2 separate regions of the Homo sapiens genome follow, and region 2 is linked to region 1. Evidence: fine-mapped expression QTL. A gene starts in region 1. The other region holds a variant in brackets. All regions are shown on one strand. Distances are from middle to middle.

Region 1 (5,379 bases):
CTGCACCTGGAACTGTTTACTTTCCTGTAACCATTTATCCTTTTAACTTTTTGCCTACTTTATTTCTGTAAAATTGTTTTAACTAGACCCCCCCCTCCCCTTTCTAAACCAAAGTATAAAAGAAAATCTAGCCCTTTCCTCAGGGCTGAGAAAATTTTGAGTGTTAGCCGTCTCTCGGTCGCTGGCTAATAAAGGACTCTTAATTCGTCTTAAAGTGTGGCGTTTTTCTAACTCGCTCAGGTACAACAATTGTTGTAAGGAATGATTGAATTCATCCAAGTAAGGGAATTAGAGCAGTTTCTGGCATGAAGTAATTGCTCAATAAAGTGTGTCAGGTTTTAAGATTAATTGATCTTTACATCATGATAAATGGCAACAAAATAAATGACAAATGGATTAAAGTAAATGGTAAAAACAACATAAGAACAAAACATTAAAAAATCATATAATAGAAGAAACCAAATATTAGTAAGTGTGAATATATAAAGTGAAAATTACTACAAGTTCAAATATATATATATATATATATATATATATTTTTTTTTTTTTTTTTTTTTTGAGACAGAGTTTCACTGTGTCACCCAGGCTGGAGTGCAGTGACGTGATCTCAGCCAACTGCAGCCTCCACCTCCCAGGTTCAAGCAATTCTCCTGCCTCAGCCTCCTGAGTGGCTGGGACTACAGGCACACACCACCATGCCTTGCTAATTTTTGTATTTTTAAATAGAGAGAGGGTTTCACCATGTTGGCCAGGCGGGTCTCGAACTCCTGACCTCAAGAGATCCACCTGCCTTGGCCTCCCAAAGCACTGGGATTACAGGCATGAGCCACCGTGCCCAGCCGTTAAAAAAATTTTGAAAAGGTAAATCATAAGCTGGAAAAAAGATTGCAACGTATTTAAGAGTTAATACCCTTAATATATTAAAAAATCAAATTTGTAAGAAAAAATTCAATACATCAAGAGAAAATATATAAAGTACATGTAAAAGGAAGTTCCATATTCCAATTATGAAAATTGCAAATCACGGTTAAATTTATAATAGCCAGTGTTGGTTAGCATGCACGAAAACAGAGAAACAGGTGCTGTTGATGGAAGTGTGTTTTGGTTTAATTTTTTGGAGGGCAGTCAGAAAGTAACAAAAGTCTTAAAAATGTCCATAAAATGGACCTTACAGATGTCCACCTGGTCGTTCCACCTCTAGAAATTTGTAAGACAAATAATTCGGCCGGGCACAGTGGCTCACATCTAACCCCAGCACTTTGGGAGGCTGAGGTGGGCGGATCACGAGATCAGTAGATCAAGACCATCCTTGCTAACACGGTGAAACCCCGTCTCTACTAAAAAATACAAAAAATTAGTCGGGCGTGGTGGCACACACCTGTAGTCCCAGTTACTTGGGAGGCTGAAGCAGGAGAATTGCTTGAACCCGGGAGGCAGAGACTGCAGTAAGCCGAGATCACGCCACTGCACTCCAGCCTGGGTGACAGAGCGAGACTCCGTCTCAAAATAATAATAATTCAACACAGGGTCTCATTCTGTTGCTCAGGCTGGAGTGCAGTGGCATGGTAACAGCTCACTGCAGCCTCAACCTCCTGGGCTGAGGTGATCCTCCCACCTCAGCCTCCTGAGTAGCTAGGACTATAGGTGCACACCACCACACCTGGCTAATTAAAATTTATTTATTTATTTAGTAAATAGAGATGAGGTCTTGCTATGTTGCCCAGGCTGGTCTCGAACTCCTAAGCAGCATCATTTTTTCTAGGTGTTAAACTGACAACCACCCAAATTCCCAGCATAAGGATTCTGCTTAAAATATCTAGCTCTCTGATGAAATATCTTCAAAGAATATTTAATGACCTTAAATCTCAGACAAAAAGGTAAGGAGACAAAATGAGGAACCCATTTCCGTACAACCCCAATTTGGAAAAACACATGTGCAAGTATGCCCATGTTAAAAAATATAGAAGAAAAAAAGGCTTTAAGGAAAAAAAAAATAATAGTAATGATTTAGGGTGGGAATCGCGTTAATATTCCCAATAATTTTATATATTTTAAAAATCTATAATTTTATCAGGGGAAAACGTTATGTTGCGGAAATTAATTGATCGATTGAGTGATTGGTTAACGGACAGTGTCCGATGACTCATATAATCCCCCGGTTCGAGTCCCTTTAGGCCGCAGACGTTTCGCGCCTTCTCGGGTGTCCAAGTCGCGCATCCATACAATGAGGGGTAATATACTAGATTACCTGAGGTCTTCTTACGGTAAAAACACCGGTGTCTTAAGGTTTCCCAGTGGAATTTGGGGGCCGGGTTGACTTCGGAGCTGGAGCTCGCAAAGGCCGGGGCTGCTGCAGATTCTGACGCTTTGTGGACCCCTACTACCGAGCGCAGCCGCACCGCAGGTTTTCTTCGCTGCTGGTTAGATCCAAAGCCCATCCCATCCTAGTAAACTGGGACAGCGCCGCTTCTCACATCACTATGGGGGCTTCTGCTCCGTGGCGGGGAAAGGCCAGAACTGCTGCCTTAAATACGCTTTTGCATCATCCGGTTGCTAACCTCCGGCCACAGCATTCCCCACTCCAAAATGCCACTTTTCCAGGTGTGTTTGCCTAAATTTACCCCATTTACAGACTTCTCAGGTGCATCATTGGGAACAGGGCGCTTTGCAGTTTGCAAACCACCTCAGACAACTCCAGGTTTAAAGGATAAAGGATGACATTGTGAGCAAAGCGGCATCAAAATTTCAGATATTTAACTTTCACATTCTAACCATACACCTTTCCAAGGTCTTGTAATACTTTCACATTGTGAATATACATCTTTACAAGACCCAGTAGTACATGGGTCAAGTGTGGCAAAACAGACATCGCGAGCCAGCCAGGAGTCGAACCTAGAATCTTCTGATCCGTAGTCAGACGCGTTATCCATTGCGCCACTGGCCCCGACTTGCTAAAGCCTTCTCCGTGATAGCTGATCACCCTTATACAGTTTGAACGGGCTTCCGGGTACCAACGATCCATTTTGCCCTTGCGCCGCGCTCCCGCTGCTCTGCCTTTCCCCAAAACGCGCCCCACCAATCCGCAGCGGCTTCGTCACGGCGCTCTTCGTCGCACTCCAACCCGCCGCGTCGGCGGCATCTCTCGCGTGCTCTTGCTTGCGCACTAATTTGTCCTCCACCGCCTCCCGTTCAGGCCGGCTCTCCTGCGGGGCGGGGAAAGGGGTGGGAAGAGGCTGGGAGCTGCGGCCGCTGTGCCAGGGTGACCGGTAGAGTTGTAGCCGAGGTGGCGGCGCGGGGCGGGGCGGGCGGAGAGAGAAGGAAGGAGGTGGTTGTGCAGGATGGCGACGGCGGCCTACGAGCAGCTGAAGCTGTGAGTCCCACGGGCCAGAGGCCTGAGGCGCGGCGGGCGGGGCGGCAGGTGCGGGCCCTGGCCTCGGGGAGGGCTTCTGAGTCCCGGATTGCAGATAGGGTGTGGGAGCTCCTCGCATTTACCGGTTTTCCTCAGCCGGCGCGGCCTCTCCTAGGCCTCGCCCGAGTAGCCATAGGCCGGGAACCAGCGGCTCGCCGGCCTTTCTCCACCGTGCTCGGCCCCAGCGCCCACGGCTGAAGAGAGAAGCTGCCGACTGGCCCCCACCGAGCCGGGGTCGGCGTTATGATGCGGCCCTTCAGGGCACGCTTGTCCCCACTTTCTATGCAGAGCTACCGACTAAATTTATCTGTATGACTTAACAGAGAAAAAGAGTTTTCTCTTACTTAACGGACCTACAGCAGCAATTTAGAGTCTACGCACAAATCAACAAATCTTTGTTTTGCTTACAGCCTATCTGGGTACCGAAGCCTGCCTGCCCCCTCTTCAGTGTGCAGAAAAAATTTAAAGTACAGTCAGTAGTCTTAAGGTCCTGAAGGAGTTTACTTTGGTTTAAATTTTAAACAGCTCCAGCCTAAAGCAGGTTCTTAAGTCAGTGTCGACAGCCAGAGGCTAATCTCGGTAATTTTGGTACTGCAAATTGACTTTTCGGTAAATCCAAGTTCTTGAGTCTTTGATACAGAGGCTGTGGTTGTTAAGAGTTATAAAATAGGTGTTTTTAAGGGTTTTGGTTTGTCTTGGATTAAAAACAACATGTGTTTATTTCCCTTAGTGTTACCCATTAGCATCCACACTTTTCTTGTCTGTGAATAATTTTGTTGTACTCACTTCGTGTTTAATGCTTTACCCCTAGGCTGTTTGAAAATCTGGTGGCCACAGCCTGGGAATATCTGGTAGGAGAAACAAATGTAATTTTTTAGAAGCTTATCTATCCCTGTATATGAGCTAAAATACCTTGGCAGTTAGGCATAGATACCGCATTTCTTTTGCAGGGAAATGACACCAAAATGTGGTTTGGGCACTTAAGCTCCTCAGACCTCAACCTCACTAGTAACTTTCTGAAAGGTTCAGTGGAAAGTTAGAGGTGCAAAATTCAGAGAGGTCATCTATTCCACATTGTATGTGTTGCAAAAAAGATGATTGCTTTTTCTACAGTGCACCCCCTGTGGGTGCCATTTCTGTTTACTGTAATGTTCTTTGAAAACCCTAGCTGCACACTTCCCTCCACATTTTCCTCTCCACCTTTCCCTATTTTCTCCCAGTTCCCCTTTGCAAAGTGCTCACCTCGTCTTTGGTGAAAGAGTTGAAGGAAGTGTCTTCCACTGCGTTTCTGGCCAGGCCACTGTCACATGTGCTCTGCTAGCTAATTAGGTTATTGTGTATCTGATAGGCACTGAAGGGTTTAATGTGATCCTACACCAGGTCTCAAATGTGTTTAAGCCATATGGAGCCATGGCTTCATGCAGCTTAGCGTGGCAAAGATTGAATAGGATGGAGAACTTGAGAATTATGATGATTGTTTTTCAGCTGCCAGAACACTAAATTTAACCAGTTCAGACCTTAAAACAAACCCAAATCCTCGCATACATAAAAGAGAAAGGAAATTTGTCCCTGAAGTAGTAAGAATGATGTTTTTGTATTGATTTTTGTGAGAAGTGGAAACTCTTAAATTATTTGGGTGATAAAGTCAAACTGGGGTTATGTGAAAGTCATTCTCTCATTTGTCAGTCCTAGCTTTTTTTCCCCCTGAAAAAAAAGTTTAGAGTGTTTCTGTAAATGTGAAGGTACAACTTTTTTGCACCTTTTTCTTTACCAAGGGGTTTATGAGTTAGAGTTTCCATTTTTATTCCTTCCTTTTGGCCCTTCCTGCTCTGAGGCTGCTGTTGAAGGTTTTCAAATGTGGCTCCTGCCCTAAGGAGTATTCTTTTTTGGATGCATTTAGAAGTGAAATTGGTTTCTGTGTAAGAATTGGTAGGAGATAGTAGCCATTTTTTAAAATGTGTCTGGAGATG
Region 2 (5,379 bases), 31 kb before region 1:
AATTATAAAGATGTAACACTGACACTCCCACCCCCAGTTTATGTTTGATGCTGATTATTCAGGGATGGTTTAGGTCTTAGCATTTTTGACCAAGATGAACAGCATCAAATGGAAGTGCCAGTTCAGAGACAAGCCTGAGGCATAGTCTGACTTGGTGGTTCTCAAAGTGTGGTCCCTGGACTAGCACCATCAGCATCACTAGGGAACTTAACTAGAAATGCAGAGTCTCGGGCCCCTTCCCACACTTACTAAGTCAGCAGTCTGTGTTTCAACAAACTCACCTGGTGGTTCTGAAGCATGCTAAGGTTTGAGAACCACCTAAGTTTTTGGTGTTTATCCCTCGGCTATTCCATTTTGTCCTCTGTCCTTATTAGCTCTGCCAAAGCCGCAGCAGCTCCCTAGTGTTACGTCTCTACGTATGAGCCGCCATAACAAGTCAGTGAGGACAGTGAAATTTGCCTCTTCAAGGGAGCAGAAGGAAGTTTAATTGGGAATGCCAGGAAATCCATCTACTTCCCTGGAAGGACTGAACGTTTATACCGCCCCCTCACAAATCCTTATGTTGAATCTCTAATCCCAACATGATGGTATTTGGAGGTGGAGTCTTTGGGAGGTGATTAAGTTATGAGAGTGGATACTTCCTGAATGGGATTAGTGTCCTTATAAGAAGAGCTCAGAGATGTAGTTAGTTCCCTTTCCACCATGTGAGAAAACAGCAGGAAGACAGCCATCTGTAAATCAGGAACTGGATCCTCACCAAGAACCTGACCCTACTAGCACCCTGATGTTGGACTTCCAACCTCCAGAGCTGTGAGAAATAAATGTCTATTGTTTAAGCTACTCACTTTATGGTATTTTGTTCTAACAGCCTAAAATGACTAAGACATTCCCCTTAGTCTGAGAGATATTCCTTTTGGAACAGAAAACAAGAGAGACAGTATAGTGTGGTGGAAAGAGTGTTGACTTTGCACAAGAGAGACCTGGGTTCGAATCTCAACTTTTCTATTTAACTTTTAGCTACATAGGTGAATTTAACCTCTTTAGCTTTTGTTTCTCCATCAGAAAAAAAAAAAAAAGCATCAGTAACTCAACCGTAATATAGTAAGTGAGTTTCCTTTTTCTTTTTCTTTCTTTTTTTTTTTGAGACGGAGTCTCACTCTGTCGCCAGGCTGGAGTGCAGTGGTGCAATCTCGGCTCACTGCAACCTCGGCCTCCCGGGTTCAAGCGATTCTCCTGCCTCAGCTTCCTGAGTAGCTGGGATTACAGGCACGCACCACCACACCCAGCTGGTTTTTGTATTTTTAGTAGGGACGGGGTTTCACCATGTTGGCCAGGATGGTCTTGGTCTCCTGACCTCATGATCCGCCCACCTTGGCCTCCCAAAGTGCTGAGATTACAGGCGTGAGCCACCACGCCCAGCCGACAAGTGAGTTTCAACTGCCCAAACGTCAGGGCACATTATTGCAAGATTAATGAAATGACTCAAGCAGGCCTCCAGGGCTGGCTGGCTTGGGGTAAATTGTGCTGCTTCAACCTGTCCTTGTCCTGGCTGTGGTTTGGCACCACCTAGTGGCGGTTGGGTGCTCTAGCTTAAATGTCAATAAGGAGGATTCTGGATCCTGCTCTTGATTGGAACTTTCAGGACAGTGGCAGTGATTCCAGGAATTTTCAGGTTAGTTGGCGTCTGTTTCATTGGCCAAATCTGGGGTGATTCAGCCTGGAGAATACCTTTTCTGCCTCCCTGCTTCTCAGCACCAGGTTGCTTGCTGTTTCCTACCTGGCCTCAGCCTCCTCTCAGCAACCCCCTTTCTCCAAAGATACAAACTTTAGCCTGTCTCCAAGTGGAAGGTTACCTATCAAGTTACATCTAAATGCCTGTCATCACAAGGAGTTTTTACGGAGCTGTTCATGACACTTAAGTGAGACATGAGGCAAGTAAAAGGCCCAGTACCTAGAAAGTGTTTGAATGAAAATTCCCTTTTCCGGCCAGATATGGTAACTCACACCTGTAATCTCAACGCTTTGGGAGGCCAAGGCGGGAGGATTGCTGAGACCAGGAGTTCGAGGCTGCAGTGAGCTATGATTGTACCACTGCACTCCAGCCTGGGCAACAGAGCAAGACGCTGTCTCAAAAAAAAAAAAAAAAAAAAGGAAAAAGAAAGAAAGGCCTGTCCCATTTCCTGGCAGAAGAGAGAAACTGGATTCTGCATATAGGTGTGCATCCAACAAGCATTAAATACTGCTGCATGGCCTCATGGTGCAGTGGAACAAGCACAGTCTTCACAGTCAGACAAATCTGGGTTCCCATCCTGCCCACTTACTACCTGGGTAAGCCTCAATTTCCTTACTTATGAAATGAAAACGATAATGTGTAATTCATAAGTATCATATTTTTACTCCAGAAAGTTAGGAGTAATCCTTGGGTGTGATTTCAAGTGATTCCCAAAAATAATCAATTCCTGTATCCTTGTACTGCTCCATGACATTGACATGTGATGTGTTTTATTTCTGCCCGACTCTTTACTGAACCCTTTCTACGCTCACTGAAACCTGGAGTAGGTGATGGCTTTGAGTAGGAAATGACTTTGTGAGTTTCTTCCGTAAAAGGCATGTGACAGTACAGGGTCAGAAGGTGGAGTGATGCAGTAACCTGTGTGGCAAAGTTTTCAAGCATTTAAAAATATATGTGAAAGCCCTAAACATAGTACTTAGACCACAGAAGACAATCAGTAGATGTTAGGCTTTTCTCCCACTCAGAATACAAACAAATATATTTTGATACACTATCCAGTTTCTAACCTCAGGTGGTCTTTCAAAACCGAAGTGAAAAATGAAGTGTGAGTTCTTCAGAGCAAACTAAGCCCCACCCTCTTAGGTCAGTGGGGGAGTCTCAGTTTTTTAAAATTTGGAATAAAGGAAAATCAGACGTAGTCCCCCAACCCCCTGTACTGGCCTCCTGTGTCCGGACATGGGAATTCTCAGCTGTGGGAACTGGCAGCAAGAGGACTTATCTAGCCAGCTGGGCAATTTTTTAAATGATCAGAGCAATACCTGCTCATTGGTAAATCTTTGGGAAAGTGTAGGAAAGTATATAGAAGCAACCAACTAGGAAATAAACCATCCCCTCCACCATGCAGATTCTTTTTTTTTTTTTTTTTTTTTTTTTTTTTTTTGAGACTGAGTTTTGCTCATGTTGCTCATTGCAGGCTGGAGTGCAATGGTGTGATCTCAGCTCACC[A/G]CAATCTCCACTCCTTGGGTTCAAGTGATTCTCCTGCCTCAGCCTCCTGAGTAGCTGGGACTACAGGCATGCACCACCATGCCTGGCTAATTTTGTATTTTTAGTAGAGAGGGGGCTTTTCCATGTTGGTCAGACTGGTCTTGAACTCCCGACTTCAGGCGATCTGCCCGCCTTGGCCTCTCAAAGTGCTAGGATTACAGGCATGAGCCACCGTGCCTGGCCTCACCATGCAGATTCTAAATATGTCCACTCAGAGGCGTTGCCACTCATGGGCAGATTTCCTTTCCAGTCTTTTTTTCTTTGAATTTCTTTATATAGTTGAGATGCACAATTTTTAAATCTTGCTTTTTACTTTTCACATTATAACATAAGGGTTTTCTTTTAAGATTAAAAGTATTTTTTCATATTATACATATTTCTAGAAAAATTTAATATAGAAATATGTGAAGTAAAGTGAAATTTCTCTCTAATACCATCTGTCACTGTACCTAATACTAGAAAGAAAATTTAAAATATTAAAGTATATAAAGTAGAAAGTGATGTTTCACTGTTATACTTCTACCAGTGTTACCCACTGTTTGTTTTTTTCCCTTTTGCATATCAGTGGTATCTGCAAATTACTGAAATGGAATTGTACTATAAATACACTTGTCAAGTTTGCTTTTTTCACTTGTTAATATATTTTCAGTCTGGGTGCAGTAGTTCACACCTGTAATCCTGAGATGGGCTGATCACTTGAGCCCAGGAGTTGTTGACTAGCCTTAGACAACATGGCGAAACACTGTCTCTACAAAAAAATACAAAAATTAGGCAGTTGTGGTGGTGCACACCTGTAGCCCTATCTACTCAGGAGGCCGAGGTGGGAGGATTCCTTGAGCCTGGGAGGCTGAGGCTGCAGATTGCACCACTGCACTCCAGCCTGGGTGACAGAGTCAGGCTCCATCTCAAAAAAACCCCAAACATATATATATGCTATCCCCAAACATATATATATGCTATATATAAGCATTTTCCAATATGACTAAAACACTATTTAAATGACATTTTAAATAGCTATGTAACATTTCATCATTTATATGTACTCTGGTTTATATAACCATTCCTCTAAGGCTGCCAGTTTGGATCTAAGTAAATATTTATTCACTTTTTAAAATTCTTTCCCAAAGCTAAGTCTCAGATAACCTCACTGAGTCAGAGATAAACATTTTAAAGTTTCCCTTCCAGGGAGAGTTTATCATCTTACACTCTCAGCAGTAGCTTATGAAAATATACAGTGACAACAATCACAAACACTTAAAAAATCTTTGTTGATCTCCTGGATGAAAAAGCTTTCGTTTAATTTGTTTCTTAACACTAGAGGGTTCAGTGCTTCTGCATGTTCAATGATCTTCCTCTGTGATTTTTGGAATAGAGGTGATCTTCGCCCTATTACACAAAACGTTGATTTCCAGCTCAGATTCCTTAGAACTTGCTAACCCCATTCCTGGAACCAAAGTGCTGTTTGCTGTGTTCTCCATACATTGGATCAGAAGCCTAAGCTCTGGAAGTCCTGCGCCGTTTCCTGGTGGCCTCCTAGCTCCCTCTAGGGGCCCCATCCGCAACTGCAGCCCCACCTTCTTTCCTCTCTTGAGGAATGAGTTTACCCTGCGGGAATTCCGAGAAGGAAGAGGCGAAAGTGGGGAGCTCCACAAGTAAAGATTTGGACTTTGTGATCAGACAGTGTGTGAATAGTTTTGCTTACTGGTTGAGCAAGCTTCTCTTAGGTGGGCTGTCTTTTTTTTTTTTTTTTTTTTTTTTTCCCGAGACGGAGTCTCTCTCTGTCATAAAGGCTAGAGTGCAATGGCGCGATCTTAGCTTCCTGCAGCCTCCGCCTCCCAGGTTCAAGCGATTCTCCTACCGCGGCCTCCCAAGTAGCTAGGATTATAGGCGCGTGCCACCATGCCAAGCTAATTTTTGTATTTTTAGTGGAGATGAGGTTTCGCCATGTTGGCCAGGCTGGTCTCGAACTCGTGATCTCAAGTGGTCCAACAGCCTCAGCCTCCCAGAGTGCTGGGATCACAGGCGTGAGCCACCGCGCCCGGCCAGGTGGGCTGTTTGTGTTCCTCGTCACCTTGTTCCTGGGGAGGGACAGAGGGCAGCAG

What was found.
Region 2: its variant is fine-mapped to the expression of LIMD1-AS1 in testis (GTEx, PIP 0.95).

What each region holds. Positions count from the first base shown.
Region 1 is chr3:45,686,128-45,691,506 of GRCh38, forward strand. It overlaps LIMD1-AS1 (LIMD1 antisense RNA 1), which reads right to left and starts at 2,755. Exons shown (of 3, transcript NR_033947.1): 1 at 2,249-2,755. It overlaps LIMD1 (LIM domain containing 1), which reads left to right. Exons shown (of 8, transcript NM_014240.3): 8 at 1-214. SACM1L (SAC1 like phosphatidylinositide phosphatase) reads left to right here and starts at 3,269. Exons shown (of 20, transcript NM_014016.5): 1 at 3,269-3,370. The coding sequence starts at 3,339. It overlaps TRR-ACG2-1 (tRNA-Arg (anticodon ACG) 2-1), which reads right to left and starts at 2,944; the gene lies at 2,872-2,944. RefSeq lists enhancers at 2,071-2,140, 2,651-2,700, 2,961-3,250 and a silencer at 3,281-3,460.
Region 2 is chr3:45,655,395-45,660,773 of GRCh38, forward strand. All of the region lies in intron 2 of LIMD1 (LIM domain containing 1), which reads left to right. Among named protein-coding and RNA genes, the nearest start is that of LIMD1-AS1, 31 kb to the right of the region's middle. The variant A/G (reference allele first, on the strand shown) is at 3,239.